2 linked regions of the Homo sapiens genome follow. The protein of the gene in region 1 purifies or fractionates together with the protein of each later gene. This does not show direct contact. Each region holds a gene or a part of one and is shown in the gene's direction. Other genes may lie near its edges.

Region 1 (16,059 bases):
TGCACCAAGGTCATGGGCAAGGACAGTGTGATCTGAATAGAGTCCCCTATAAATCATAGGGGGAAAGCTGCCAGAGGGTTAGCGGGGATGGAATGAGCACACACACTTGCATGTAATCTGTTAATGCTGATAGCCTGAAATGCATGGACTCAAAACCTGCGTTCAGGGTTATCTTTAACAGTGTACCGGTAATAGCTTTCCAGAAACAGCTTGTAGTTCTGCTAAAGTCTAAACTTTCCTCAGATGCCATTTGTATTGTTCAGCCACCATAAAGGGGAATGACAGTCTACAAATGAGCCTTCAGAGAAGATAACACAGTAAAATTGCATTCCCAACCACCATAGTTGTGAAGGTAGAATCTTTATTTGGGGAATCTTTATTGTTCACATTATAGGAAACAGAAAGAAACTTTGGGAATTAGACGTGCAGACTTTCCTCCAGTACACTATTTCTAAACACCGGACTGGAGAGGGGCAGTATGATGCAATGCTAAGCACACAGCCTCTGGAGCCAGGCTGCTTGGCTTCAGATGCCAGTCCTGCCACTTACTAGCTGTAAAACCTTACTGTGTTTCCATTTCCTCAGCTGCACAATAAAGATAATTGCAATACCTTCTTTATAGGATTATTGTGAAAATTAAATGAGTGAATACCTGTAAACCTCTCACAACACTCTCTGGCATTCAGTAAAGTGCTTGAAAGCATCCCTTATGATTAGTGTTCCCTGTTGAGGTTGGGAGCCCAGCTTCTCTTCTCACTTGTCCCTGCCACACTCCTGTGTACTTTCACAGAGGAATTCTGGATGGTTGTGAGTGTTCACAATCTGAAAGATCACTGAAAAAAAAAATTAAACAAATAAAATGTGAGATAGAATTTGAAATAGAGTGGCCTTAAAAAGGGAAGACATTTGAAAACATTGGTATAAGAAGCTGCTACTGGAAAATTTAATTTTGAACCACAGCTCCGCCAGACCTCTTCAAGGAAGTCAGTGAGAATAGCTTCCCCCTTGTATTTTAAGAGAAGAATTTTTAGCCTAAAGCTTGATTTTACAGGCTAAAAGAAGGATAAATGCTGGAACCCTGATCAGGTCAGGGGAAATTCATTCTTAAGGAAAAAACAAAAGCTGCCCCAGAATGATCAAGAAAGTGTAAAAATCAATATAGCTATGACAGCCCCAATAACAGGAGTTCCAGTAAAACACAATGCTCTTCCTTAGATTTCAGTCCAGAAACTGTAATGCTATCCTTTTCCAAACCATAAAAGATAGATTAATTGGAAAGTACTTTGGATTTCTAGTAGACCATTTATTTTGTGCCTAATGAAGTTAAATAGGATAACATAACACCCACTATAAAATATATTTTTCTAGAATGTCAGCCTGAGTTTCTGCTAATGAGGCTGTAATTTTGGCACATTCACCTTTTATATACAACATCACTGGGGGTAAATAAGGAAAACGGAAAACTAATTCTCAGCACATGGAGGAATAGATTCAGACAGATGCAAATATCTCTGGGTTAGTTCTTTCTTTTTTTTTTCCTCTCCACTCCCTTTGACTTTTTGTCCATTTGCTAATTTGTCTAAATCTGGGACAATATCAAGATCTGAAGATTATTGAGAGTCTAGCCTTTTTTTTTTATCCTTTTGGTCTTTTAAACTGTATCCACCAAGGGCTTATAAATTAAGTTCTGATGTTTTAATTACACATGACATCATGTATTTCAGTTACTTTTTTAATTATACCTATGTCTACACAGGTACATTTGAGTTTCTTATCAGAGACATTGTAAGCATTTGCATGATTTAAGTTGAAACCATCTGTGATCTTATTCTTTGATTTTTGTAATTGATGAAATGTAGACTTACCTGAAACATGAACAAAGGAAAAAAGAAAGACTAATATGGAGCTAATGAAATAAGAGCATAAGGAATTGTTTCATGGTGGGCGCTAACTAATAAGGACAGTTAAGAATAAATACCCCCCGGGGGGAATCATTCATGTCTCTACAAGCCCTTTGAAGAATGGTTTCCCAAAACTTGTTATATTTATCTTCCGTAGTAAATATGTTAAAAATGTATTTTAATAAAGAAAACAAATTTAAAATAAAAAGGAAAGTCCCTAGTAGTTAAAATGACCTAAAGTTAATCCTGCAATTACGACTCCTGGGTGATGCCTATTTATGTTTAGATACTCTCATTAGAAGGCATTATGTCTTCTGTGTCCTTCTCTTTCCAACCAGTCCTGTAGTTTATTTAGTGAGCAAGACAATGAATTTATTTCCTTTCCTCCAAATCTGGATTTCTGGGGCTTCTGAGCCTGCAGTAGCTGTAGCTCTTTGATAAGATTTCATCCAAACCCTGTGCCGTTGAAGCTTAAAACATGATTTCTTCTCCTAAACCAATTGCCTGCAGTTTTAACAGGCACTAATTTTGATTTAGCTATGTTTGATTTAGTAGCTCAGACATGGTTTTATTGTAATGTCTCACAGTGTTTTCTTAAGTATACGACAATTGACCGGCTTCACCTTCTCATTTCTTATGTTACAGTCACTGCTTTTGTTTTCTAGGTTATCTGCCATAGAACCTGTTTTCTAAACTGCTGTAAAATTAAACACTGTTTTGGTTGGGATGACTGACAAGGCATAGATTTAATTCAGTGCACAAGACACAGAGTCCAATTTTGGTACAGCATACCAGGTGTTCCATGATGAACATTTGTTCATCTAAATGTCCCTGGATATGGTCCAAGCTGTTCTCTCCTGTTATTAAAGTACTAAAGTAATAATAGTAATAAATCAATGTTTTGGTGCTGAAAAAAAATTTTTAAGCAGCTGGCAAAAACATGGTTCCCAGCCGGGCACGGTGGCTCATATCTCTAATCCCAGCACTTTGGGAGGCCGAGGCAGGTGGATCATGAGGTCAGTAGATCGAGACCATCTTGGCTAACACGGTGAAACCCCGTCTCTACTAAAAATACCAAAAAGAAAAAAAAAAAATCAGCCAGCCGTGGTGGCAGGGGCCTGTAGTCCCAGCTACTCGGGAGGCTGAGACAGGAGAATAGTACGAACCTGGGAGGCGGAGCTTGCAGTGAGCCGAGATCGTGCCACTGCACTCCAGCCTGGACGACAGAGCGAGACTGCGTCTCAAAAAAAAGAAAAACACACACACACACACACACAAAACCATGGTTCCCAACTACATATATTAAGTTTATATGTGAAGAACTGGGATTATTCAGTAACTAATATTTCTATGTGTGTCTGAAGGCTCAACTAATTTGCAGTTTAAGTACTAGAAAAGAGTCACAGTATAAAATGTGGAGGGTGGTGTTTTGACTCGTAACAGCATGACAGACTCTCACGTGGCTGCAAAGACATCTTGAGCCTCCTTGTCATGCTCCAGGCCCCTAGTCCACGCACCAGGCTCACAGTGGGTGTTCTATACCTGAAAATGAGTAGACTTGACCTAGTGCTGTTTTCGAGGTATAGCTACCTTGAGAGAATGACATCAGGTTCCTCGGAAGTTTTGAAACGGAGAGATCACTGTGATCTCACTTGGATCCAAATTTTCAAAAATCCACTGTTGTAGCTACTTACGTGCAGAAGACGTGGAGTAGAATCACTGGTTTTAAAAAAAAATGATGGAATATTGGAAATGTAGTGGTTTCAGAGCTATTTCTCAGAATAGGCAGTCTCTGGTTTATTAACTTGGGTTTCAATCTCAGAATAAGTTTTATGATAAAATTATTAGCACAGCGGCCGGGCGCGGTGGCTCACGCCTGTAATCCCAGCACTTTGGGAGGCAGAGGCGGGCGGATCACGAGGTCAGGAGATCAAGACCATCCTGGCTAACACAGTGAAACCCCGTCTCTACTAAAAATACAAAAAATTAGCCGGGCGTGGTGGCGGGCGCCTGTAGTCCCAGCTACTCCGGAGGCTGAGGCAGGAGAATGGTGTGAACCCGGGAGGCGGAGCTTGCAGTGAGCCGAGATTGTGCCGCTGCACTCCAACCTGGGCGACAGAGCGACACTCCATCTCAAAAAAAAAAAAAAAAAAATTATTAGCACAGCTTCAGGCACGTTATAAGTTAAATATGCTTTAGTGGGTTGGACTGGAACCCCAGCCTCCATGTAAAACATTTCCTTTAGGGATAATGTCTTCAATGTTCAAGGGGATGAGAACACAGTTCTGTGAATCTGCCTGTCTCCCCTCCAACAGCCACAATGAAGGTGGGAAGGGCCACTGTGCGCTTAGAAAATGGCCTCACAGCAAATCAGGAGCCAGTCTGACTCCTGGGGACTCTGTGAAGGATCCTGTTCAGTTCCCCTGTGCACCCCATTCTGGCTACTTCTAACCACGTGTTTATCAGGGGGATGCTTGTCATTCTAAGATACTGGAATATCTGCAGCTTAACAGAAGCCAGAGTTACACTAATTTCTGTTTAGCTTCCTCTCCAGTCCCAGCAACCCCTATCCTACAGCTGGAGGAATGTTGTACCCACAACAACAGCGCTACGTTGTCCTGGAAACAGCCACCTCTGTCCACGGTGCCCGCCGATGGATACATTCTGGAGCTGGATGATGGCAACGGTGGTCAATTCCGGGTCAGTAGACAGCCCACTACGTACTTGTTAACCCAAAGCAGTGACTCTGTCAGAGGACCTGCCAGGGAGTCTCAGGGCTGGCTTCCCCATCTCTCCTGGGGACAGGCCATCCTGGCAGGGCCTGCCTGCCCTTCACCTGAAGCCTGCTTTCTCCCTCTACCGTGAAGGTGGATGGAGCAGTCTCTGAAACTGCCCTACCCTTCTTATGAGACAGGACATGCAGTACTGGAGTCAGACTGCCTGCATTCAAGTTGGTCTCCTCCACCCTAGCTATGTGGACAATGCCTAATTATCACCCCTTTGAGTCTTCAGGTCCTCATTTATTAACTAGAGGGATGATAACAATAGCGTGAATCTCATGCTTTGTTGCTAAGAGTCCATTAGATAATTCATACAAAATTCTTAGCATGCTGCCTAGAACATAGCAAGCGTTCATTATTAGTTATTATTATTACCATCATTGCTTATTGCTAATAATATAATTAACCGTTGTCCAAGATTTATTTCTGCAATCCACAGCTTCTAATGTCTTTGATTGGCATTCCTCTTAATTGACATGGTCTCCTGTTATAGCTTCCCTATTCTAAGCAACCTTTCTAGCAAAGGTTTCCCCAGTTCTATAGTTTTGTTCTGGGCCTTTCACCAGATAGAACTGGTACCAGAAGATTGCTACCTTCCCAAGGTGAGGGAGCCCTATCCCCATTGAGAAGCTCATGCTGCCCTCTGAAGGCAGGACAGAATGGCCTCCTGGTAAGACACAGCTGTGGTACCACCAGATTGATGATTCATGTGCCACCACCTGCCGGCATGTGTCTGCTTCTCTCATACAGAGCTTCATTCTCATCCATCCTCTCCCTGCCACCCTACTTTCCATCCTCTCCACCCTAGTCTTGCCTGGAAGTTCTGATGCTTGGAGCTTCCTAAGGGAGCAGCCGTTCTGGGGACTGAGGCCAGTTCCTGCACTGATGAAGAGGAGACCCCTGTCTAAAAAAACCTCAGGCCCGTGAGGATGAGGCTTTCTTCTGGTCACCAATAGCCAAACCTGAGCCACTAGCTTTCAAGAGCAAAGCCTCTCAAGGCCCCCTTTTCCTGAATGTGTTTTTGATCCCCCACTAGGTTTAAGTACTTGAGAGCAGGGGCCTTGTCTTCTACAATTCTCCTCAAGGACAAAGGTTCTCTCTTTTGATAGAGAAGCCTTATTTACATATATGTTGATTTATTGGCATGATAAAATCTAATTTCTTTCTTTCCAAGATAAGGGCCTCAGGTTCCATTTCATGTCTTTTGCAGTGTGTGTGAGAGTGTGTGTGTGTGTGTTGTGTGTGTGTAAAATCCTATTTGTCAGTTTCTCATTCCTGACTTTGCCTTTTCAGTGCCTGTGTCATTTTCAGGGCCTTTCTTTTCCCTTTATTATCTTTTTTTTCTCCTGGGAAAGTAACTCTCCCGGTTTTCCCAATTCTTTAAATAATTATCTTATTTTGTCTTGACTTTTTCCTCTACTCAAAAGTGCGGTCCTCCCCCAGCAGCATTGGTTTCACCTGGGAACTTGTTAAAAATGCAAAATCGAGACCCTACCCCAGACACCTACTGGATCAGCAACTGCATTTTTACAAGATCCTCAGGTGATTCATATGCACGTAAAGTTTGAGAAGCACTGAATGAGAGGACATAATATTCCAATTTTTGTTATTCCAGCAGGAGTAATGAATTGATGGGTGATCCAAGACCGTGGTCTTCTTAGTATCCTACCAGAGAGTTGTCATATTAAGGCTGTGCTTTGAATGCAAATTATTTTTATTCATTACATCAGCATAATTTTGCAATGTGTACAGCTGAAGAGGGAGGCAAATGCCTAACCTATGCTAAAGACGCATTATGCTAGGATTTATTTTAAGCCTTTGAAATGTCATTCTTCCTCCTTTCCCTGTTTCCTCCCCCTTCCCTCTGTACTGTGATGAAAACCTATCCCCGGTGGCTTGGAGTGTAATCTCTGTGACAGTTCTGAAGTTATCAGCGGAGTTCTAAACATAGGATAGAGACCACCTTCCTGTTTTCATGGTTTCAAACATGTTTTTTACAAACCATACTGATGGATAAGGAGCTCAGTAGGGGCTATATACTGTACCAATCCCAAGTTAATAAGTGTAATCTGAACTATAAGCACTCAGTTTTATTTTTTTTAAGCCCTAGCTGCTAATAACTACCATTCATTAGGCTGCCTGGCCCATGCTAAATACAAGGCATGACGCTAATCTGCATATACAACATTAAGTAATCCTCACACCAACCTCATAAGGTGGATATTATTATCCCATTTTACAGATTAGGAAACTGAGGCTAAAAAGGTAAATTAAATGGCCCAATATCTCACAGGATTCAAATCCAGATTAGAATGACACCAGGGCTCTTGCTCCTAACCACTGAGCGACACTGCCTCCCTCGCCCCTCAGAAGGGGGCAGGCTAAGTGCTGTCCTGTTCTTTGCTGACTCTCAGGAGGTGTATGTGGGGAAGGAGACAATGTGCACTGTGGATGGTCTTCACTTCAACAGCACATACAACGCTCGGGTCAAGGCCTTCAACAAAACAGGAGTCAGCCCGTACAGCAAGACCCTGGTCCTCCAAACGTCTGAGGGTAAGGCCCTTCAGCAGTATCCCTCAGAGCGAGAACTGCGTGGCATCTAAAGTGGCTGGCAAGCCCGGAGGTAACCCCACCACTGCCCACATTCCTGAAGTGTTTCCATGACTTGCTCTGCATTCTGCACAGAGCCGCTGTTCCTCTCCTGCCTTTAGAGAGCCTATGGTATGTGGATGTGATCAAACCAAAGATTCCACATCGGCAGTTCCAATGGCTTGGGCCGGCGGCTTCCTTTGATAACAATCTAAATAAGCTGCAGTTGAAGAAGCTGAAAAATGAAGGCCTGAATGTGCCCCTGGTGTGTAAGACAAATGTATCTAGGCTCTAGAGCAGGCTCCCATTCTCCACCGATACACATCATGTGCCAGTTTTGCCCAGATGATTCTAAATTACTCTGTAGTACTTGCTTGTTCTGAGGGTGGGACCTAGGTTCTTTCCAGTCGTGGATTTGTATGACTGAATGTGTTTCAAATGGGTGGTGGGGTGCTAGAGCTGTTTAGAGAGGGCCTGTTGGCTGCTCCTGGCTTACCCACTTAGACTGCCTCCGTTTCATACCCAAAGCGGAGGCCGTCAGCACCAGGATTGAGACTTCCTGTGGGCACCAAACAGGAAGAGACCAGCAACTTCGCATTACCCGCCATTTTCATCTTTGCCAGTCCCTTCAGTCTTGGCTAGGCTACCGAGAGCCACCATACAAGGTTCATCTCTAGAGAATTTTTGCTTCTTAGCTATACTTTAAATATTTTGGTCATCAAAGACAAGTAATGTGTCTCAGATGAGAGGCTTGAATTTGATGGCCAGATATAACCTCTGAGGCTTTTAACATTTTCATTTTAAGAGTAAGCAAGACACATGAAATTAAACCTACAAGGAGGTATTTGTGGCTGGTGCCAAAGCATTCTGACACTTTGGGGTGTCATTTTAATCAAAGAAATCACCCCCCCACCTCACCGGGATTCTCCATAACTTCCCTCTGCAGAACTAATTATGTTGATTTTGTTCAAGTTCAAGATGTTAGCTAAAAGAACTATGGTGGTGTTTTTTTTCCCACTTCCCACAAACCTCAACATGTGCCAGTCACCCTAAAATGCTTCACATGGTTAAAAACAAGCACAATTTTGAATCCTACAGCAAGGATGAAAGGCCCCTAGCCGTGAAAACAGTGCTTTGGGGAGCAGTTGTCAGTCTAAGTGATGCTATTCCAAGAGAAGGATATGCTGAGGGAAAATGCCCACATGACCTGTTCCCATTTGGAGTACAGTGATGTGGTAGCTACAGCTTCCCCCAGAATTATCATTTTAGCACCTTCTCTCAGGGATGACCTATCAGTTTGAGAGCAGTTGCCTCTTTTCTCAAAATACCATACTAACTGCTAAAGCCCTCCAAGAGTCTTTCCTAGATGCAACGCAGAAGGCCCTTGCTGGTGATGGCCTCATTTCCCATGTGTGTACAAGGTGGTTTGATTGAAGAGTGAAGTGCATGCCTGCAGAGCAGAGAGAAATTTGTAGCAATGTTGCTAATATGTGTTATCAGATCTGCGGGAAAACTATTTCTATTCATAATACATCATGGGAATCATACTATTCTGGTAAAAATCAGTTATTAGCATAACAGCCTGAGCACTTATGTCTCTCGTTTCATCCTGCAGGAGGATGTAGCGCCTCAGTTTATTTTAATGTTCATAAGATTATGGTGTCTAATTTAATAAATTACAGGATTGGAACTGCGATCCTTGGTACCACAGTCACAGAACTGGGGGTCATTTTCTAGATGAAACAAACGGAACAAGTTCTCTTCCAACAAAGAAACTGTACTGTAGAAATTAATTTCCTCCATGAATTTTATATATTGTGTACAAATATAAGGTATGTATCTGAATACAAAGAAAAGCCTATCATCATATAGATATCAGTATTCTCTGTTACTGCACAGAAGTAATTTTCTCATGATGAAATAAAGTTCACACACATACTTTCTCCATAACTTTGGTTTGTTCTATTTGTTTCTCCCTCATTCTAATACATTCAGTGAGACAAGATTTAGAAAGCAAGAAAAAATATAGTGAATAGCTTATTTTAAAAAAAAAGATATGATCGATCTGTAACAATAGACAAAGCCTATAGGATCAAATAATTATCTCTTTTTTGTTTGTTTTTTAGAAATCAGTGAGAAAAATGCTATTAACAGAGTTTTGGTACATTCACTGCACTTATGCTTTATTAATCTTATTTCCTACAGTTTCCAGAAAGGTTTGCTTTAGAGATTTTTTTTTTCTTTGCTGGTATTGGGGGTGGTGGGGTGGTGCGTTCTGGCTTTCTAGTGTAACAAAATCTTTCACCTTCTTCTTAGCAAGAGTTAATCCCTTTTCAAACTTCAAAACAAAAATTCTGTATCACAGAAAGGTAAAATTTCATATGCGGTAACAAGTCTAACTTGTAATCACATGCATTTAGTCTGAGGTTTAAATTGCTCATCTTTTGTACTCTGTGAGCTTTCACAAAACCTTTTGCTGATCTAAAGGTAACGTTATGCAGGGGAGATCAAATGTCTACATTACTATAAATTTTGATTGGTTTTTTCTTCGAAAGCAAATTTATCTGTCTATTTATTGGGCAGTGCTTGATAAGTGACCACTGTGTGCTAGGCTGTGGGTATAGAGTGTTGAACAGACGTTATCCCTACTGTCCTGGAGTTTACAAGCTAGAAAAGGAAACAAGCCTTAGAGAAATAAACATATAAATAGTTCCATTTTTACACATTGTGATAAACACTGAAAAACAGGGAAAAGGGATTAGCAGGAAGATAAAATTTTTATAGGAGAATTAGGAAAGCAATAAAAATTAATTAAATTCAATGGAAATTATAAAGAACATGCTATTAAGAGAAAAGGAAAGGAGTCAGGTGCCGTAGCTCATGCCTGTAATCCCAGATACTTGGGAGGTTGAGACGGGAGGATCCTGTGAGCCCAGGAGTTTGAATCCTGCCTGGGCAACATAGTGAGACCCCATCTTAAAAAAAAGAGACAGAGAAAAGGAAAGGAGAATGCATTATTATATGAGTCCAAGTGTGGATAGTTCTCTGAAAGCAAAGTTCCTGGAGATGTATCAAAGACACCCATGGAAAAAACGCCAGTTGCACATCTAAACCAAATTACACTGACTTAAGATGAAATATAACTGTAAGCAATTAAGAATTTTAATGAAATTTTCAAATAAGGCCCCCAAGCCCCAAAACTTGGTCATGGGTATCTTTAAATTAATTCATCTAATAGCCATCATGGCTGTGCCAGTCTTTGAAACCATCTGCAAAAGAGTATCTGTTGAAAACATTACACAGCAAGGCCATCTTAATACACAGAGTTCTAAGGTTTATGCTATGTGTGAGACAAGCTGTACTCCTGTTTTAAAAAATCATACAGGGCTGAGAACAGGATAGGACATTTTCTGTTTATTTTTCTCTAGTTTCCCTCTTCCTATCTAAGTAGATTCTGCCTACAAAGTCTATTTAGGTAGGGGCTAGACATCTGACTTTGTAGGACAAAGTCTATCTATTTAGTCTATTTAGATAGACTTTGTGGCTACAAAGCCAGACATGTAGCATCTTCCAATCTCTTTCTGACCTTTCTACCTTCCTTTTTTTTGAGACAAGGTCACACTCTGTCACCCAGGCTGCAGTGCAGTGGCACAATCATAGCTCACTGCAGCCTCCTACACCTGGGCTCAAGGAATCCTCCCACCTCAGCCTCCTGAGTAGTTAGGACTACAGGCATGTGCCACCATGTCTGGCTAATTTTTTAAATTTTTTGTAGAGATGTGGTCTTGCTGTGTTGCCCAGGTTTGTCTCAAACTCCTGGCCTCAAGTGATCCTCCTCCCTTGGCCTCCCAAAGTACTGGGATGACAGGCATGAGCCACCATGTAGCCCCTACCTGCCTTTGATAAGGATCCTTGTGATTACCTTGAGCCCACCTGGATAATCCAGTATAATCCCCCCATCTCAAGATCCTTAATGTAATCACCTCTGCAGTGTCCCTTTTGCCATGGATAATAACATATTCACAGGTTCTGGGGATTCAGATGTGGACATTTTTAGATGGCCCATTATTCTTAGTACTATACTTTATGAGGAAGGTATTATTATTGTCATCTTTCTCTACTTATGGGAAACTGAGCTGCTGAGAGGTTAAGTATAATAATATGTCAGATCCAGGACTTTAAGCCGCCAATGCTCAGCACAGTCCGCTGTGGTGCTAACATTAGAAAAGTGCTATTTGCCCTCAACCAAATGGAAAGAAAGAGAGGGAAAACTATCCAAAGTCTGTCTGCAAGGTGACTGAAAACACCTTGTCAAAATGAAGCAGCGCTGTGTAGCTGCCTCATATGCTCATCCAGAAATCCCAGCCAGAAGGAGGACTTTACTACTTGCAGTCATGTTGGGCAGATCTCCTGAGGTCAAGAGTTCGAGACCAGCCTGACCAACATGGAGAAACCCTGTCTCTACTAAAAATACAAAATTAGCTGGGTGTGGTGGCGGGCGCCTGTAATCCCAGCTACTTGGGAGGCTGAGGCAGGAGAATCACTTGAACCTGGGAGGCAGAGGTTGCGGTGAGCTGAGATTGCACCATTCCACTCCAGCCTGGGCAACAAAAGTGAAACTCCATCTCAAAAAAAAAAAAAAGAGTCTTGTTGAAAAGAGTAGCGTTCCAGCTTTAAGAAGATGTGGGAGTGGCCATCATTTCCAGCATAATATCCAAACTCTTTATCAGGTCCTGTGCTCATTTTCATGTCTTTGCAGAAATTTCCTCCAGCTCCCTCCCATCCCAGGTGAGCAGGTCACCTAGAGAGGCCCTTCCCCCACTGGTACCAGTGGATACTCTTGGCTGGCAGTGACGAGATTTGCCCGGGAAGGAAAAGGAATATCAGAGCTACATCTCTGAGGCTCTGATACTACCAAATGAAAGTTACTACCAAATGAGGTCTGGCACTCAGAGCCCTGCTTGGGTTGACATCACAGAGCCATTTATTCACAGAAGCTTTCCAGCCCTGCCTGTCCTAACTGGGAGGGAAAATGGGGAGAAGGTAGTCAGTGATAATTAGAGAAAAGAGGGCTGGCTCTCAAGCCATCTACCCAGCATTTTTCAGGATTGTTTTATCTAATGACAAATAGGTTGGGATTCTTGAAACTACATCTTAAAAACTGCTTTCTAAAAAGTGGGCCTAGACAATGTTACTCATAAAGATTAAAATGTCTTTCTCCCCGATTAGACTCTCAGCATCACGCTGCCCCTTTCATTGTAGTAGCTCCTTCTTCTGTGCATTGAAGGAAACCACCCAGAAAAGATGTAATGGTGCAGACAAAATATAAACTTATGCTTCCATTTGTCTGAATGCAAATTGGCCTCAGATGCATCTGTCCAGAATCTTTTTGCAATTACTTATTTATTTATTCATTCATTCATTCATTCATTTATCTTTCCAGAGACAGAGTCTCACTCTGTCACCTAGCTGGAGTGCAGTGTCACGATCGTGGCTCACTGTAACCTTGACCTCCTGGGCTCAAGTGATCCTCCTGCCTCAGCCTCCCTAGTAACTGGCTCTATAGGCATGCCACCACACCTGGCTTTTTTTTTTTTCCGTAGAGACAGGGTCTCACTATGTTGCCCAGCCCGGTCTCAAACTCCCGGCCTCAAGCGATCCTCATGCCTTGACCTCCCAAAGTGCTGGGATTACAGGCATGAGCCACCGTGCCCAGCTCCTTTGCTCATATTTAATAGTGATTTTGGTCCAGCATAAGTACTGCACCCTGATGTGCTGAGACCTCCAGAAATGCTGTCACCTTGTGAGGAACAAAGAACCTGTCAGAAGAACAACTACAGGGAACACCTCAGCCCATCTAATCCCTCTAGCCAAAATTCCAAGGAGGACAGTGATGTGTGTGCCTTTCCAATCCCTAACCACTACATAAACTAAACACTCTATTTAAAGAAGAAAAGATGTATCCTTAACACAGTTAGGGTTTATTAGGTCCTCTACACAAACCTTGGTCCCCACTGAGACCACTGAAATGTGCCCTGGGGCCAGTGGCATAAGCTTTACCTTTTGTATATTTCTAGGTTACAAAGGAGCAGCAATAGTCTTGTCACCCCAAAATTTTATCCTCCAGGAATTGATCCTACCTGAGTCTCTATTGTATCCCTCCACAGCTGTGGTGTAACTTGGATATGTCCCTTAGCCTCTCTGGACTTCAGTTTTCTCATCTCTAAAACCATGGACTTACAGCTGAGGACCTCTGAGTCTTTACAATTAGTACCTTTGTGGCTTCTCTCTCTAAAACTGCTGTTGAAAGTTGTTTCAGAAAATGCTATGAAGCAGCATTAGATACCTCCTGCCTCCTCCAAGGGTCATAATGAGTCTTAAAGTTATGCCTATGATACTGAAAATTCAACACTAATAGAAAATGATTGATAAAGGATCATATAAGGAAATGTATATGGTCTACTGAAAGATGGTTTTTCTGTCTCTGCTTTTCCTGACCCAGAGCATCTGGGCCTCTCCAAAAATAGTTAGAAGAATATGCATTTCCAGGACAAAGTTCTCAAGGTAGGTAATCATACCTGACCATATTTGGGTAAATTTTACAAAATCCAAGGTGAGAGGCATAATGATAGGTTTCAGAGCCCAGAAAAGAGAGATACTTTGTTCTTTTAAATTTTGACACATGCATGATATCCCAGGGAATTTCTTGCATTTTTCCATGGGACTGAGATTCAGAACCCTATTTTTGGTTCTGGGAAGTGTGCTTTGCAACTGATACCCTGGAAAGCAGTTTCATTCTTTGGAATCCTCTGTATGTAATTGAAATACAGGAATTTTCAGTTCCTCTGATGATAGTTCCTTATAAATAATGCCATGGTATTCTAAATTGGAGTGGAGAACTTGGTGATGAAGTATGCATCTGTCCTTGGGGTGGCAAAAGCTGTTTCATTCTTCTAAAAGAAGGTTTTCAAAACAGATTTGTTTCTCACTTCTCAATTGCAATTAATGCCACACTTAACAAAGCTTAAAATACCACCTTTTATTATAAATTATGTACCAGTTGGACATAATTGTGACTTTGGCTGCTTATAAGACCATTTATGAAAACAGCCTCATTCTTCATTCATTTCTTTGTCTCTTTTAAAATCTTCCCAACAAAAGCAAATTATTTTACAGCTGGTTTATAATTGAGTTGAAACTCATCTTTAACACTGTACAATTCTTCGTGACATGTCTTGCCTTACCGTGCTCCAAAATACAACCATCTTATTGGACCTGGGTTCAAGGGCTGCTTAAGTTATGAAGTTGTTCACTGCCAGACAGGAGGACAACCCAGACTTCTACCAGGACACAGAGGGCACTGGATTAGTATACACTATCATAAGCAACCACAATCTGTTTGCTTTTCCTCTTTAGATTCCAAAAATAACACCCCAAAGGCTACCTTTTCAAATATTCTACAACATCTGCAAAAATCTTTAGTACTCTGTCCTTGGAGTCAGTCAAGAAATTCCACCCCCAGAAGTGTAAAAACCAATCAATAATATATGACACTGATTTTCTCTAAATTATTATTTTTCTTATGGTTGAGTCTCCTGCCAACTTTATGTTTCCCAACGGCTCAATTCTACTGCAATGTCTGGCACATGACAGGTGTTCAATAGCGTTGGCTAATGAACAAATAAAAGAAATATATGGGCTGGGTGCCATGGCTCATGCCTGTAATCTCAACACTGGGGAGGCTGAGGTGGGAGGACTGCTTGAGGCCAGTGGTTTGAGACCAGCCTGGGCAACATAAAAAGACCTTGTCTCTACAGAAAAAATTAAAATTGGCCAGGTGCAGTGGTATGCACCTGTAGTTCCAGCTACTCAGGATGCTGAGGGAGGAGGATCCCTTGAGCCCAGGAGTTCAAGGCTGCAGTGAGCTATGATCAACACCACTACACTCTAGCCTGGATGACCAAGTGAGACCCTGTCTCTAAAAAAGAAATAAAGAAACAAAAGAAATATATGGTGGCCAAACAGGAGTACATCACCTAGATATTCTCAGTCAATAATACAAGTGGTCCCCAGCCAATCTTTGCTTTGTTGATTCTTGATTGCTTTTTTTAAGCAGAGGTCTCTGCCCTTATCTAGACCCTAACTCCAGACTCCAGCCAATCCTAGTGAGGAAGGGAAAGAAGTCCAGGAAAGAGCAAGAGGAAAATGATGGTCATTGACAGAGTTGATGGAAAGCATATCTTGATACGTATTCGTTACGAACACAGTCCCGTCCTAGAGTTATAGTTATGCCTAGAGTCACCACATTTGGCCATTGACATACTGTTTTCCATTGCTCTTTCCTGCTAAACTGCTTTCATTCAGCAAAGCTCTGCAACCACACGGGATCCCTGCGTGTGATGAAATATGATGTGATGTTAAACGTCTCTTCAGGAGCTCCTCATTTTTCTCTAGTGATCTATAAAGTTAAAAATTAATAATAATTATTATCCTGCATATTAGCTGTGACCTGAAACATAGCTTTGTATCATGTATTGTGAAAAAAAAATGACAACCTCATTCCTCTTTGTCCTTAATAATAGAATATGAATGGCTGAGAAGCCTTCTCCATATTGTGATAGTTGTGTTTTGAAGGGGAGGTGAGGAAGTAGTGTGTGCCTTCTTCCTGCATCCCATGGGCATAACGCAGAATACGCACTTAAGTAGGTGTGTGCACATTCAATGTGTGTTAAGTGTGATTCGGCTAAACCAGGGAGTGGCAATACTGTTCTCAATGTTGTCATATTGTC
Region 2 (16,059 bases), on another chromosome or scaffold:
TATACATATCTTCATAATTAATGTAAATAATATATTCTTCATATATATGTAAGAACATATATATATATATATGACCTATAAATCAAAGGGAAAATATTAGGGAAATAATGAATTTGAATTTCTGGCATTTTTGTGAAGATGAGTAAGCATTTAATAGCTCAAGTGAAACACAGAGCCTCGACACTAGCCAGGAATGCAGTAAACACATATCTAACAAGCAAGCACTATTTTGGTCTATTTCAGAGCACTGATATTTTATATATGAAATATATGTATATTTTGATATTCATATTTATTCAAATCATACAATTATGAAATTTTTATTTTAACATATGAGAATAATTTGAAAATCAGATCATAAAATAAATTTTACAACGAAAGAGTTGAAGTAGAAAACAATTTAGTACCAAAGGGCAGTCATTTCTCAGGAAACAAAAAGGCAGTTGGAAACTTTACACCAACAAATCGAATGTTCTCATTTGGCTGGCAATTGATAAAAACGCATCCTGTTGTTGTGAATACTTAAAGTAAATGATCCAGAAGAGTGCAGTTGATGCCCAGGGTATTGGGATTGGCAGTACCAGTGTAAACTGAGTGCAAATTATGGTACTTACTGCCTGATATTTCCCCGCCAATAGTAATTAAGCTACGTAGATATAAAGAAATTATCAGATGGGGAAAAGTGCCCACAGGCTCACATGCACACCAAACACATAGACACATGTACCGATTTTAGTTCATACCAGATGTGTGAAGAAAACACTCTTTTCTGATCCCTTTTAGTAACAATGATGAATCAACAAAATCAAATGGGTTAGACTACATAAAGTGCCTTAGGCCTGTGATTTATGGTAACATTTGTAACTGTATATAAAATCACTCATTTGGCTGACATTTAATGAGTCCCTTCTATGTAGCAACATTGTGCATATCCTTGTGGAAAAGACAGTTGCTGCAATTACTTGCACAACTCAATGGAGTGTGTACTGGCCGTTCTCCTGGGACAAAGAACCAGGACACTGAGCAGCCCTGGCTAGGCTTAGCAGGAGAGGAGTGTGGCCTCATGTTTGTTCTTATGGGGATACTGCTTTGAGCTGCAGATATTCCTATAGTCTATTTTCCCCCATGATGCCTGACGGAAGTGTGTGTGTGGTTGTCATATCTGTTTCCCAGAAGTTTCCAAGCCTCAATGATTCTCAGAGTCATGGTCAGGTAAGGCTGTGCATGACCTCCCGCTCCAGACCATACACAGCCCCTACATTGCTAAGTAGCTCTCTCAGATTGCTCTTCCATATTCTCATAGGTTTCACTCTGGATGAACAGTTCATTTGCAGCTTCTCTTCCGTGCCACACTTGGAACCTCAGAAAACTCTGAGTGATATGGGCACACCTCACACTCCTTCCTTCTCAGCAAATTTGCCACCTACTATGCATGTGGTGGATCAGATAAGGTGCATTTTCTTCTCCTTTGCCCCTTGAAACTTGGAGTCCATTTGAATTGTGTCACATCACCCCATTGTGCTCTAGTGGGAGAGATGAGCAGAAACTTCCCACACACTGCCTCCCTTTCCCTTCCCCCAGATACCCACTCATCTCCCAGTCCTCCTGGAGTGGTTCTGTTTGGGAAACTAGGGCTCAGCTCTCACCTGCTTTGAATGTGTTACAAGTCACAGGAGGAGTGATGCCCTTGGAGTTGGGTCATTTTAAAATCCAAATCTCTGCTCCCAGATTGAGCCATGTTCACAACAAAGAACACCCTTTCCATGTGGCCACAAGAGAGCAAGAAGGAACACATTCAATGAGTACTTTACTTATCAACTGGGCCACATGTTTATGCACTGTCTGCACCATATCACAATTCTGGATCCCTCACATACGGCATATATCTTAACAGGTCATTCAGTCTCAATGTTCTCGTTCCTTTCTCTGCCTTCTGTAGAGGAATAATAGGTTCAGAATCAGAAATGTCCCCTCTTGAAATATGTGCGTTGTCTTTGTGAATATATCAATAATAGTATAAGCATACAAATTATTTATGTTTTTTTCTTTAAAATACAGTACTGTGACCATCCACTTGAACAATATTAGTGGACACATTTTTGGTTTGCTTTGTTTCATTTTTTTCCCATTAAGGAAATGTCTGCTTTGTTATAACACAATACTAATGCATCACTGTACACTTTAAGACTCCTCGTTGTTCAACTTTTTCTCTTAAAGTCTCCTTTTTGGAACATAGAGCTTTTTCATAGAAAAAGTATTTCTTCCTGGAAGAATATTGAAGTGGAGACACTCATAAAGTGTCTGTGAAAATACAACTCTCTAGGAGTAAGGGTTCTTTCTGTGAAATAACACATCAAAGAGGAATGAGGAGAGCAAGACAAAACCCAGTAGAGATGGATTGGAATGGGATGCATTACTTTGGAGTCATGAAACATATGTACTGTCTGTGTATATGTATATAAACATTTGTGTAAATATATGTGTGTGCGTATGTATGCATGCACACATGTTTCTTAGCTCTGTTCACCAAAAAGACCTAGAAGCAAATGCACTCAAGTAGCAACTTATACACCTAGGATTCAAATATTTGTCTTTATACCATTCCCCACTAAAAGAACCAGAAAACCTTGAAGGAATGTCTTTTTCTAGAGCTGAGGCAAGATCAAGATGAGCCTGGAACATATTATGCCAAAAAGAAAAGAGGTACTCCAATAAACAATGGGGCATGTCACAGGGACAGAGAAAAACGATTAAAAAGAGCTTCCCTAGTTGAATCTGGGTAAATTTGAACACCAGTATAATTAAGGACAATAATGAATTATAGATTATAAAAAGGAATCCATGTGCCCATTGAAATAAAAGATTCACAAAAGAGAAAAATATGGACTTTTGCTTATAGTCAAATGCTAAGTGTCAACAAGTAAATGTAGAGAAAGGAATGCTGGAATAGGAAAAAAAATCATTATTTTGTAACCACCATGCTAGAAATGGACTCCATCAAGAACCATTAGTAGATGCTAAATCTATGGGAAATGTTGATAACAAGCATATTTATATGGTCCTAATGTTATCTCCCCATGGGTTGCTTATTAGTTGTAAGTGGTAGAGTAGAGGGCTGGGAAGGCGTAGGGGACCTTCAAATTCTGCTTGGCCAAGTACTCAGTTCTGGAATCATAAATGAGGCCAGAGAGAGAGCTTGTGCCTCTGGATGTGATGCCCTGAGAACAGATCATTTACATTTCATTTGTCTGAATGCATAACCTAAGTCTAACATGAGACAGAGACACATTCAAAATGATGAACATTTTATTTATAAAAAGGGGCTAGATTCTTTAAAAATATCAGTTGCCTGAAAGTCAATGTATTTAGTACTGTTCCAACTCACAGCAGCCTGGAAAGACATGGCAACAAAACCTGACCCTAAACTGGATCCTAAATTGGTGAGGGGAGTGCTACACAAATGACATTATTGGTCAGTTGCCAAAATGCAGATGAAGATTAGATAAAAGTATTGTGTTAATATTAAATTCACTGAAGTTGAGAACTATACTATTCATATACACATTTATTTTTAAGAAATATGTACCAAAGTATTTAGGATTAAGGAGAAATGATTTGGGTAGCTTATTCTGATGATATATAGATTCTCTTGTGTGTGTGTGTGTGTGTGTGTGTGTGTGTGTGCGTGTGTGTGTGTATGTAATTATACAGAAAGGAATATTTTGGTATATATATTTCAAAGTGTTGACAATAGGTAAGTCTGGATAAAGGAAACATGGCTGTTCTATGCACTATCCTCATTCTTAAAATTTCCTTTGGTTTTAAATTATTTAATACCTTTTTAATGGCAAGAAGGAAAAAAAACACAGTAATTTGTAAAGATAAAAAAATACAGTGTTAAGAACAAGGAATCTCAAGGTTCCAGGACTGATGGGAAATATGTGAAGGTGACATTAATACATGTTCTGCCATGAATAGAAATATTTTTCCAAATGAATGTATGAGCAGTGATACCATAAGGGGCCTGGGTTCCATGGAATAAATCTTGAAAAATGATGCAGAGTTACGCTGTTAGGTTCCACGCTGATCTAAGAAGTGTATCAACAGATTCATGCCAGTCAGTTTTTCCTATGCCATTTTTGCTATGGAAGTTCAAACTCTCAGAACTGTATTACAGGCCTACAATGTATATCTGTCCAAAGCTAGGTGTTATCCAAGCCTGGGGAAAATACACAGACAACATTATTAAGTAAGGCTGTAGTTAAACCTGGAATGGTGGTATCATTTGTTGATTTTAGGTAACCATAGTGTGGCCATTGCATTTACCATTTACAAGCTATATACAGGTCCATATGCAGGAATACAAAATTATGAAAAAATACAAAATTTGCAGAGAATCAAAATGGAAGCTTTTTCTTAACACATTCTGTATCTGAACCTGACCTGACCTCATGCTAGGCTATTCATAGTCTCTAATGAGCCCATTTGGCATGAATATCATATGCTTTACTGCAAATATATAGTTACATTTGATTAACAATGTAAACAATTTGATATGAGTATCATATGCTTTACTGCAAATATATAGTTACATTTGATTAACAGGGTGCTACTACAGACCCCATTAGGGAAAAAAGAAAAAAAAACCCTGCACAGATACTATGTTACTTTTCTAAAATCTGAAAGTTTCAAAATCTTAAGATACCTGGGCTGGGTGTGGTGTCTCACACCTGTAATCCCAGCACTTCGGGATGCCAAGGCAGGAGGATCGCTTGCCAGGAGTTCAAGACTGTCCTGGGCAACAACATAGTGAGACCCAGTATCTACAAAAAATAAAAATAAAAAAATAACTGGTCATGATGGTGCATGCTTGTAGTCCTACCTATTCAGGAAGCTGAGACAGGAGGATTGCTTGACCCCAGGAGTTCAAGGTTGCAGTGAGATGTGATCATGCCACTGCACTCCAGCCTGAGAAACAGAGCAAGACTCTGTTTCTGGAAAAAAAAAAAAAAAGTGTTTTAGGTAAACGATTGTGGATCTGTGCTGTCTAATTTCATTAGCAGACAAGTTATTTATCCTTCTTAAGTAACAATAATAAGAGAAAATGTAATACTAAAAAGTGGAATTGAAAATGGAACACTAAAATTCATTTAATGAACCCAGAATCAGGCAAGATTTTAAAACTCTGACTTAAAGAAAGACAATGTGGTAAATTATCCATAGCTGTGCGACCTATTTTAATTATAAGTAGAACCATAATATACAAGTACTCCAAATGTACTTTCTCTTTTCCTTCTGCAGTTATTAGCCATGTGCAGGCAAAGACATAGTGGCATAGTGGCAAATTTTTCAGACTAAGAATTTAGATTCACAATCCCACTCTTTGCTGCCATTATCTTAGTCACTTGTACTCCTTTACCAGTTTCTCTAAATGTAAAATAAAATAGGCAATTTTGGTTAATGTAAGCTTTCTTATGAATTTTAAAATGAAGCGATTCTAAAGCTTCCAGAGTTTATATTTTTATATTCTTATTCCATATTATTCTAAAATACATACTCCTAGAATTTTATTGAACTGTAAAAATGTAATTTTGTTTGTTTTGAGAACAAAAACCCACTTATCCTAATCACTTTTCTTTCTTTCTTTATTATTTTTTTATACAGTGCAAGTTCCAGGGCCAGTAGAAAACCTGCAAGCTGTATCTACCTCACCTACCTCAATTCTTATTACCTGGGAACCCCCTGCCTATGCAAACGGTCCAGTCCAAGGTTACAGATTGTTCTGCACTGAGGTGTCCACAGGAAAAGAACAGGTAGGTGAAGGAATGGACCACACTGCTTCCATCTGTTGGATGTTTCCATCCATTGGATAGCTCTAGGGCTGGAGAAATAGGAAAAGACTCGCAAACTCTTGAAACAGCCCAGTGTTAACACATTCATTGAAAAGCTGATTAGTTTTAAAGCACTTGTTATTGGAAACTTTACACAATTTAATTAAATTCTGGTGGTAAGAGGTAAATGGGCAATAAAGTGAAGTCAATAGAAAGGATACCAATTTTTTGGTTGAGTCTGCAGTGGCCTGGCGTGTGTGGGCAACCAGATTTGTATTAACTCACCTGGTCGTGGAAGGCATTTGCAGTTTTATTCCTTAGACTAAGGGGTGATTGCCCTCCTAGTCAATGGCGTTTGCCAAACTGCTTTTTTCATTCTAAGACATTTATATCTAACTCCCTTCCATCATCAGGATGTGTCCTACCATTTTTTAATGTTTTCAGAAGAACTTACTCTGAGAAGCCTAGTCTCCTTCTCCTTACATTTTGCTCCTACCCAATGGTTAGCATAGACACCTGAAAAGAAGCAAATTAACTGTTCAGGTAAACTAAAAGTAAAAAGGTCTTTAGGGAGACACATGAAACTGAAAAATTCTATTTGGTGATACATGCACACACATATGTTAAAAATAGAAATTGAGTTTCATATATATGTGTATATATAATATGTATACCTATATAATACATATATATTACATATATACGTATATGTATTATACATGTATAATACATATATAAGCATAATACATATACATATATTATATATTATATAATACATATATACATATACATATATAATACATATACGTATACATATATAATACATATACATGTGTATATATACATATATGTGTTATACATAATACATATATACCACATATATGTATTATAACACATATATACCACATATATGTATTGTAACACATATATACATATATGTATTGTAACACATATATGTATATATGTATATATACATATATGTATTGTAACACATATATGTATATATGTATATATACATATATGTATTGTAACACATATATGTATATATGTATATATACATATATGTGTATATGTATGTGTTATATATAGTATATATAATATATAATGTATATGTATTACATATCTATGTATATACATGTATTATATATAATACATATCTATGTATATATACATGTATGTATTATATAATACATATCTATACATCTATATGTATATAATACATATCTATGTATAATATATAATACATATATGTATACATATATATAATATATGTATACATATTTATAATGCATATATATATGTATGACTGTTGAGGTATTTACTTCCAGATTCTCAACTTCATGTAGGAAAATATATACAGACATGTATATATTCAATAGTTAAATCAAAAATTGGCCCCAGGATATGGGAGTTCTTATTATTTGTTGTGAAGCTTGTCAAGCATAGAAAGGCCTTCCTGCTTTCACATAAACTGCATGATCAGAATTTTTACTTAAAAATAAGAAATATTTTATATTCAAAAATAGCTCAAGCCCAGTCCCAAATTATATTATAAGATAAGCATTACAAGAGCTCCTCCTATGTAATCATGGGTTGTATTTTTTTCTTGCTATCTTCAAGCTATTTTTTGCTCTTGTTTTTTCAACTTTCTGTTTTATCTGCCTTTCTATATATTTTAGCTCTTCAACGCATTTTGCCAACCAATTTAAATAAATTCAAAACCATCATCATCCAAGATAGATGTGAGTGTGAAGATCTGATTCCTCAGTAACCTTCACCTCCAGTATCTCATTTACTGCAGCCATGAGAGGCTCAAATAATTTCAACCAATCTAACAGCATTTTGGGAGATAAAAATTGTGGCAAAGTGTCTGACAGTTTCAAGAGCTGTGGGTATATTTCAGCAAGAGAAGCACAAAATCTATTATTTCTTGGTGAATTATTCCATTTTGGGTACAGGAGAAAATCTCTGTTCCCATGGCGTTATAAGCTGCCTTCTGCCTGTGAGGGTTTAGGTGTGGGTAGAATAACCCAAACCATTCAGTACATTGAGTAGTGTTAAACAAATTGGAACTTAATGACTGTAAAAATAGCATGTGCTGTTTTAACAAGGAGTCTACAGATTAGTTGGTTTTTAGTGGGGGAGTCTGTGTCACAAGGTAGGTTTTATAGCTCATTAGAAGGCTGGAGTGTAGTTTGTAAGAGTCTAATGTCCAATTCACTGATTGCACAGAATGAGTGCCATTTCTACTTTAATGTGCTTCCTTGATAACAGTTTTGGTGTTTTATGTCTCCAGAATATAGAGGTTGATGGACTATCTTATAAACTGGAAGGCCTGAAAAAATTCACCGAATATAGTCTTCGATTCTTAGCTTATAATCGCTATGGTCCGGGCGTCTCTACTGATGATATAACAGTGGTTACACTTTCTGACGGTAAGTTAAAAACAGTGAAACTCCTTTTACATATTTGACATAATATTGACAATAATGACATGATATTGCACATATATCATATATTCCATTTTCAAGGCTTCCTGACTAAAATTTTATGGACTATTACAGTTAAATGTAAACTTTCTATCAAGATACATACTCCCAGCTGGATGTGGTAGTTCACACAGGTAATCCTAGCACTTTAAGAGACTGAGGCAGGAGGATGAGTTAAGCCTAGGAGTTCAAGACCCACCTGAACAACATAGTGAGACCCTATCTCTGTAAATGTTTTTTTTTTTTTTTTTTAATTAACTGGATATGGTGGCATGCACCTGCGATCCCAGCTACTTGGGAGGCTCATTCTGGAGGATCACTTGAGCCTGGGAGTTCAAGACTGCAGTAAGCTGTGATCGTTCTACTGCACTCCAGCCTGGGCAACAGAGTAAGACCCTTTCTCCAAATTAAATAAATATATATGTATATATGTATATACATATGTATATACTCTTGAGTCAGTATATACTAATAGGTAATCCTCAAAATGTGACTATTGACTAAGAGCTAAAACTTTGTGTATTTTTTATTTCTTTACATTTTCTAATACACATTTGTGCATGTGTGGATTAATTTTGATTGGCATGTTTTATTCCCCCATCTAAAAGTGTGCAGATGATTAAAGGTGTAAATGATAGACAATCCCCCTATATTTACCTCTTAATTAGAAAATATATCAAAAGGAATTAGGCCAAATAAGCTGATATTAAAATTTAAAGTATTAAAATTGAGCATGAAAAATGTGTATGTTGCCTACTAAATGGAAGAATAGACACAAACACACACATTTGAGACAAGAAGTGCAGTGACTCAATTGTGCTTCACTACACCCTTTATTCCTGGGCTCAAGGGCTTTTCTTTTCTTTTCCTTTTTTGGAAACGGAGTCTCGCTCTGTCACCCAGGTTGGCATGCAGTGGTGCAGTCTCAGCTCACTGCAACCTCCACCTCTCGGGTTTAAGTGATTCTCCTGCCCCCAGCCTCCTGAGTACCTGGGATTACAGGTGCATGCCACCACCCCTGGCTAGTTTTTGTATTTTTAGTAGAGACAGAGTTTCACCATGCTGAGCAGGCTGGTCTGGAACTCCTGACCTCAAGTGATCCACCCGCCTTGGCCTCACATAGTGCTGGGATTACAAGCGTGAGCCACTGCACCCAGCCTCAAGGGATTTTCCTGCCGAAGCCTCCCGAGTAGCTGGAACTACAGGCATAGGCCACAGCACCCAGCTAATATTTTTATTTTTTGCAGAGGCAGGGTCTCACTTTGTTGCCCAGGCTAGACCTGTTTTTGAATGCCATAAAAGAGAGGAACAAATCTTAATAAAGAGAATAAATTTGACAAAATAATGGCCAGGGGAAACTAGAAACCTAACTGCTAGATGATCATGAAAGGTTGGGAAATTTTATAAAAAGTGAAAATAAAATACATCAAAGTATATGATGTGGGGCCAACGAAAACTCAGGCAGGTGCAGAAATGTAGCGATAGGCCCTTGTGAATATTAAAAAAGGCCACAAGCTAGCTCTTTTCAGCAACAATTTCCATTTGGTGTGTTTAATTCTATAAATTATTTATCTTTTTAATTAAAAAATGACTTTAGCTTGTGATTTCTTGACAGATCTATCATTGTTTATTCTGGGAAAGTACCTGGGTGTACATTTCACACAATATCAGTGAAATGAGGAAGGGCATGCATATTATTAAGGACAGTACAAAGAGAACACAGGAATAATGCTCATTTGCAAATTCAACTTTAAAATGTATTTTATACGTAATACCACTTTGGTATCATTTTTAATGTAATTCTTAGGCCCATCCATCCAATTCTGTTATTGAAGACAGAACAGAATATTTATTGGTAGAATAAATTACTTCACAACTTATAATTATAAAAATAAAAGAAAAACAAATGAAAGTGAATGTTTTACATAATTTATGTAGATTTCATTCACTCTGAACTGTAATACTGTGGCCTGATTCTCCACTTTGGTTTTAAATGTCATAAGTGAGAAAGATAGATTATTATTCATTAGTCCAAGAATTATCTTCTGGAAATGTTACAATGTTTAGGACTTAGACAGTGTCTGTCAGTATAAAAAAAGTATTTCGTGACCCTAACCCCAATAAACATCACTGTGCAAAGGACACCAAATTCTCTCTCTCAAATGCACTGAAAGGAGATAGCAAGGACTTTATAAGCTTCTTAGAGTGGACACCGTGACCTCGTTTGCATTCATTTTTACAATCAACCCATCTCTTTTAATGTCCAACACAAATGTGTGGCTCTTGGCTTTCATTTCCTTATTATCCAGTTCCTTTCTGTCTACTTCAATCTCATGTCTCCTCCTCTGTCCTGAAGCTGTTCATGCTGAGGTCATATATCACATTGAGTTGTATTTAATCACATTTAATAGTCACCTGCTTCCCAGTCTTCAGTCATGGAGCACTCTTCTTCGTTAACTTTATGTATGTTGTAACAGGTGGATGTTGTGAAAATTAAATGGGCTGATCTGTGTAAACATCTAACAAAGTGTATGACATTTAAGTGTTTAATAAACATTATCTCTACCAAAGTGCACTTCACTTTTTCTCATTATATTAATATTAAATACCCCTAAATATGAAGGATGCTGTTATATTCACCTCTGTTTTCTTCCTGAGTAAATATTTATCGAATTAATTAGACAGCTCAGTCAAAACTGTGCAAATTTCTGTATGCAAAGGCTTATCTTTAGGATTTCCCATTTGTGGAACTAATTTGATATATTAATTTAATATATGACTGTGTCTAAATGCATCTGTATTATAGTGAACATAATAATTCTTTTCATATCAGGAGTCTTACCATAAAAAATATATTGAGACATAGAAAAATTTTTAAAAAAGCAAAAGTTAAGTGTAAATACATTTCTTCCAATTTCATTACTTTATGTTTTTTTTTCCCTGTTCTACTGGGATGCTTGTAAAGATCTTTGTCCAGATGAGCTGTCATCTCTAATTTAGCTCGGCTTTATTTTCTGAGTAGAAACCTTATTTTTTATTCAAATTCCTCCACCTAGAAAACCACTGGTTTACAATGAGCCATTTTTTTTTCACACCACTGAGATTATACAGCATATGATCATCTAAATAATTTTGCCAATTTGTTCCAAAATACTGTCTCTTGCACTAGTTGGTAAGTCACTAAGAGCTTTTATGAACGAATGAACCATTGAAAGTTTCCATGCCAGCTTGTCCTGTGTCCAAATGCAGAAGGACCTGATTTCATAGGCAACATAAGAATGTGCTTATTATTTTTATGAATGTTATTAATATTTCTTGAATACTTACTAATGGAAGGCCCTGATCCAAGTACTTTGCCTTTACCTTTCATCCTCACGATACTACTAAAATTTTCCCTACTTTACAGATGACAAAACTAAGTCAGAAAGAGTTCACAACAGGTAGTAAGCAGCAGAGCCAGACCACATAAGCTAGTAAATTCAGAGGCAAGATTCATTGTGGAAACATGTTTCTTTTATTCTATGATAAGTGCCTTTAAAGGAAAATGCTTATAATTAAATATGAATTACTGGCCAGGCATGGTGGCTCACTCTTGTAATCCCAGCACTGTGGGAGGCCCAGGCGGGCAGATCACAAGGTCAGGAGATCTAAAGCATCCTGGCTAACATGGTGAAACCCACTCTCTACTAAAAATACCAAAGAATTAGCTGGGCGTGGTGGCGGGCGCCTGTAGTCCCAGCTACTCGGGAGGCTGAGGCAGGAGAATGGCGTGAACCCAGGAGGTGGAGCTTGCAGTGAGCCGAGATCGTGCCTCTGCACTGCAGCCTGGGTGACAGAGCGAGACTCTGTCTCAAAAATAAAATAAAATAAAATAAATATAAAATAAATATGAATTACTGCTGGGCAGTAATTACACTTGTAATCCCAGAACTTTGGGAAGCTGAGGTGGGTAGATCACTTGAGGCCAGAAGTTCGAGAACAGTCTGGCCAACATAGTGAAATTCTGTCTCCAATAAAAATTTAAAAGTTAGCCAGGTATGGTGGTGCACACCTGTTACCCCAGCTACTCGGAAGGCTGAGGCAGGAGAATCACTTGTACCTGGGAGGCGGAGGTTGCAGTGAGCCTAGATCACACCACTGCATTCCAGCCTGGGCAACAGAGAGAAATTCTGTCTCAAAATAAATTAGAATTATTTTGGTCTATAAATTCTGTGTACATGGCAGCATACATTTGCTGAGGGGAGGAATTCAAGTGCCTGTGCCTTGGGAGACTCATTTACAATTATGGGGACTTGATCTGTCCTACAAAATACCTCATCTCCATGAGTTTCAAGCCAACATCCTTCTCCATATTGAGGGAAGTTTCCAGCCCCACCTCTCATTGGCTTGAATGGACCTATTTATTATAAATAATAAATTATTTGACATTTTGAAGAGAAAAGTGTTCTTTCACTTCTGCCTCATGAAACAAGAAGCGTCTTGGGAAGACAAATATAGAAAAGAACAATCGATATGGATTCTCTTCACTTTCACCTAGCCCTAGCATCTATTGTATCTATCTATCTCCAAATAATATGGAAATTGATAGTGAGAAGGAGGGAGTAGGAACTGATCACTAAAAATACTGTAGAAAAAATTCTCTACTCTCCTCCCTGACATGACAACAATAGCCAGTGTGCTATCAGTGGAAAGTTAGAGAAGAAATGTGCACTGTAAAAAAATACAGAAAAACTACTTCAATACCATTACAAAAGGACTTTTAGCAGAATTGTATTTTATTGCCTTTCAATTCTTGTTTTTTTTTTTTCTTTTTTTTTGAGACAGAGTCTCACTGTCTTGCCCAGGGTGGAGTGCAGTGGCACAATCTCAGCTCACTGCAGCCTCCACCTCCCAGGTTCAAGTGATTCTCCTGCCTCAACCTCTGGAGTAGCTGGGACTACATGAGTGTACCCACACGCCAGGCTAATTTTTTGTATTTTTAATAGAGATAGATTTTCACCTTATTTGCCAAGCTGGTCTCGAACTCCTGACCTCAAGTGAGCCACCTCCCTCGGGCTCCCAAAGTGCTGGGATTACAGGTGTGAGCCACCATGCCCAGCCTGCCTTTCAATTCTTAATACAGAAAACAGCCCTGATGCTTATAAAATTGTGGTAGCTACAGAAAAAAGAACACATATATATCTATCCTCTTAAAGTTTTCTTGGCTTTCTAGAAATAAGGAGTTAAATGCCACTTGTAAACTCAAATGAAAGTGACATTTAAGGGTTGCATATCAGCTAGAACAGTACCTACAACAAAACACATGATAAATGTTACCTTCTCTTTCTTCCAAAATTCAATTATCTATCAAAAATTCAGTTAGTAATTGATATTATGTTTGGATACTAATTGATCAAAAAGTTAGTGTAATATTATTAGAAACATATAGCATGACATGTCAGTATTACAACATTAAATATAAACTAGAAATATTCTTTCATGTTTAAGAAGTGACTCGGCCGGGCGTAGTGGCTCACTCCTGTAATCCCAGCACTTTGGGAGGCCGAGGCGGGTGGATCACGAGGTCAGGAGTTTGAGACCAGCCTGACCAACATGGTGAAACCCCGTCTCTACTAAAAGTGCAAAAGTTAACTGGGCGTGGTGGTGGGCACCTGTAGTCCCAGCTACTTGGGAGGCTGAGGCAGGAGAATGGTGTGAACCCGGGAGACGAAGGTTGCAGTGAGCTGAGATCGTGCCACTGCACTCCAGCCTGGGTGACAGAGCGAGACTCCGTCTCAAAAAAAAAAAAAAAAAAAAAAAAAAAGAAGTGACTCAATATCACTTAATATTAAGACATTATTTCCAAACTTTGCTTTTAAAGGATAACATTTTTGGAAGTTTGTGAAATTATATGATATAGAGCATGTTATTTTATTCTACAAATAGTACTTCAATTTAAAAAACTAAATTGTAATTTTTATGTCAATAATTATAACGTTTAGAATAGATTAAATAATAATACAAGTACAATTTATACTTTAACTTAAAAATTTACAAAACAAAACTTGGGACCAAACCCTGAATATGGAACCATTTTTATTATAATTTATAAACTTTTTATTAATATATTTATTCAGCAACTATTTACTGAGTGTACACCATGTGCCTTCAACTCTTCCTGATACTGGTGATACAACATCAAAATGAATAAATATCTTTTTCCTTATTGGGGTTACATTCTGTATTTAATTTTAAAATCAGAATAAGAATCTCAAAAAATTAAATAACATTTTATAAATTGTGGAATATTTTTGAAAGAATACTTGCTGAGTTAATTCATGAAAAACAAGCAGATGAGCATTTTGTCAGAAACTACACTGGCTGCAACCTTCATCAGGCACTAAGATCAGAAGTTCAAAATCAAAATAAAAAAAAAAGATTTCATTTTCTGTTATTCCCAGAAAGGTCTAGAACTATATAAGTAAGTACTCATTTGCTCATTCAATCATTAATTCAGTAAATATTAATTGAATGTCAGTTTGGAAGATAAAAGATTAATCGGTGGCACATCATGTCTTCATGATAATTACTATTTAGAAGATAAATTCAGAGTATGGCATAAATAAATTCATGGTCAGATGTAAGTACTCTATAGAAAAACATAGATTTTTTTCCAAATTCTAGTAAAAGAAGGGGAAAGATGTCAAAAATGGCCCTTAGATTCTTGAAAATGCCTGAGAACTTTTCTATTAAACTCATCTATTTGTGAGGAACAAGGATAGGGACTACTCACTTTATAGATTAATATGTGTTAACAATTTATTGAATGCTACTTCTATTCCTATTATGGGGCAAAAAGCTTTATTTCATTTATTTTTCATCCCAGACATCTAGAGTAGTTCCTGACACATAAAAGCCATTCAATAAGTGGTTGTTTTTAAATTACTCACATGATAGAATATTCACTTTTTTGGTAGAGTAAATATTTATTATAAGTATTAAAAGAGAGCTGTATATGTTCTTCCTTCTATAAAGGAGTAGTTAAATAAAAATGTAGGCAAGAAAAACAAAATACCGTACCTAGAAACTCTACAAAGAAAAATATACTGCTGCTTTGCTAATAGAATTGACTCATCAAGTGCTATTTGCAACCTGCTTGTATTTATCACATAAGGTTTAATTTTACACAGCTAAAAGAACTGAGAAGTATTTCTTCTTTTCACTTTTTAAGAGCTAATAAAGTTTGCATTACAGGGATTAAGAAACCTGGCTGACCATTAGAATGACAAATTTTATCATAAAATTATGCAGATTCTGAAATGCGCAATATCTTAAGCCTTTAAAACTACTGTAAGAAATCTCCTGTGTGTTTTTATTGGTTTCTCTGGGAAAGTTATCACAAGAGGGCTGTAATTAAATGGTGGTGTTTGGTATCACTGCCCGCGTTCTCTTGCGTAACAGTTTTAGGGGCTCCCTACATAGGTAAGTTAACTGGCTAGCGAAATGAGAAAAAAAAAATAGACAAATACAGTTATTTTTCATCTCTCCAAAAATTTTTGAAGTACTACCTGGGTTAACCTACCTAATTATCATTATAAACTATATAAACAAAACCACACTCTCTTTTTACTAGACAGGTGGTATTTTTCTTTCAAGATTTTGGCAGTAACTGTGACAATTTGTTTGATTCCTTTTAGTGCCAAGTGCCCCGCCTCAGAACGTCTCCCTGGAAGTGGTCAATTCAAGAGTAAGTTGGCTAA

Evidence for each region.
Region 2: the proteins of TRIM9 (region 1) and DCC purify together in Homo sapiens (affinity purification with western blotting, with the first as the bait; 2 studies listed by BioGRID). This does not show direct contact.

The regions. Positions count from the first base shown.
Region 1 is NC_000014.9:50,989,225-51,005,283, reverse strand, and holds part of TRIM9 (E3 ubiquitin-protein ligase TRIM9), read left to right. Parts: intron 1-4,443; coding exon 4,444-4,601; intron 4,602-7,095; coding exon 7,096-7,234; coding exon of another isoform or gene 7,235-7,284; exon of another isoform or gene 7,285-9,220; intron 9,221-16,059. UniProt on the Homo sapiens protein: E3 ubiquitin-protein ligase which ubiquitinates itself in cooperation with an E2 enzyme UBE2D2/UBC4 and serves as a targeting signal for proteasomal degradation.
Region 2 is NC_000018.10:53,199,552-53,215,610, forward strand, and holds part of DCC (netrin receptor DCC), read left to right. Parts: intron 1-5,664; coding exon 5,665-5,813; intron 5,814-8,127; coding exon 8,128-8,266; intron 8,267-15,996; coding exon 15,997-16,046; intron 16,047-16,059. UniProt on the Homo sapiens protein: Receptor for netrin required for axon guidance. Mediates axon attraction of neuronal growth cones in the developing nervous system upon ligand binding. Its association with UNC5 proteins may trigger signaling for axon repulsion.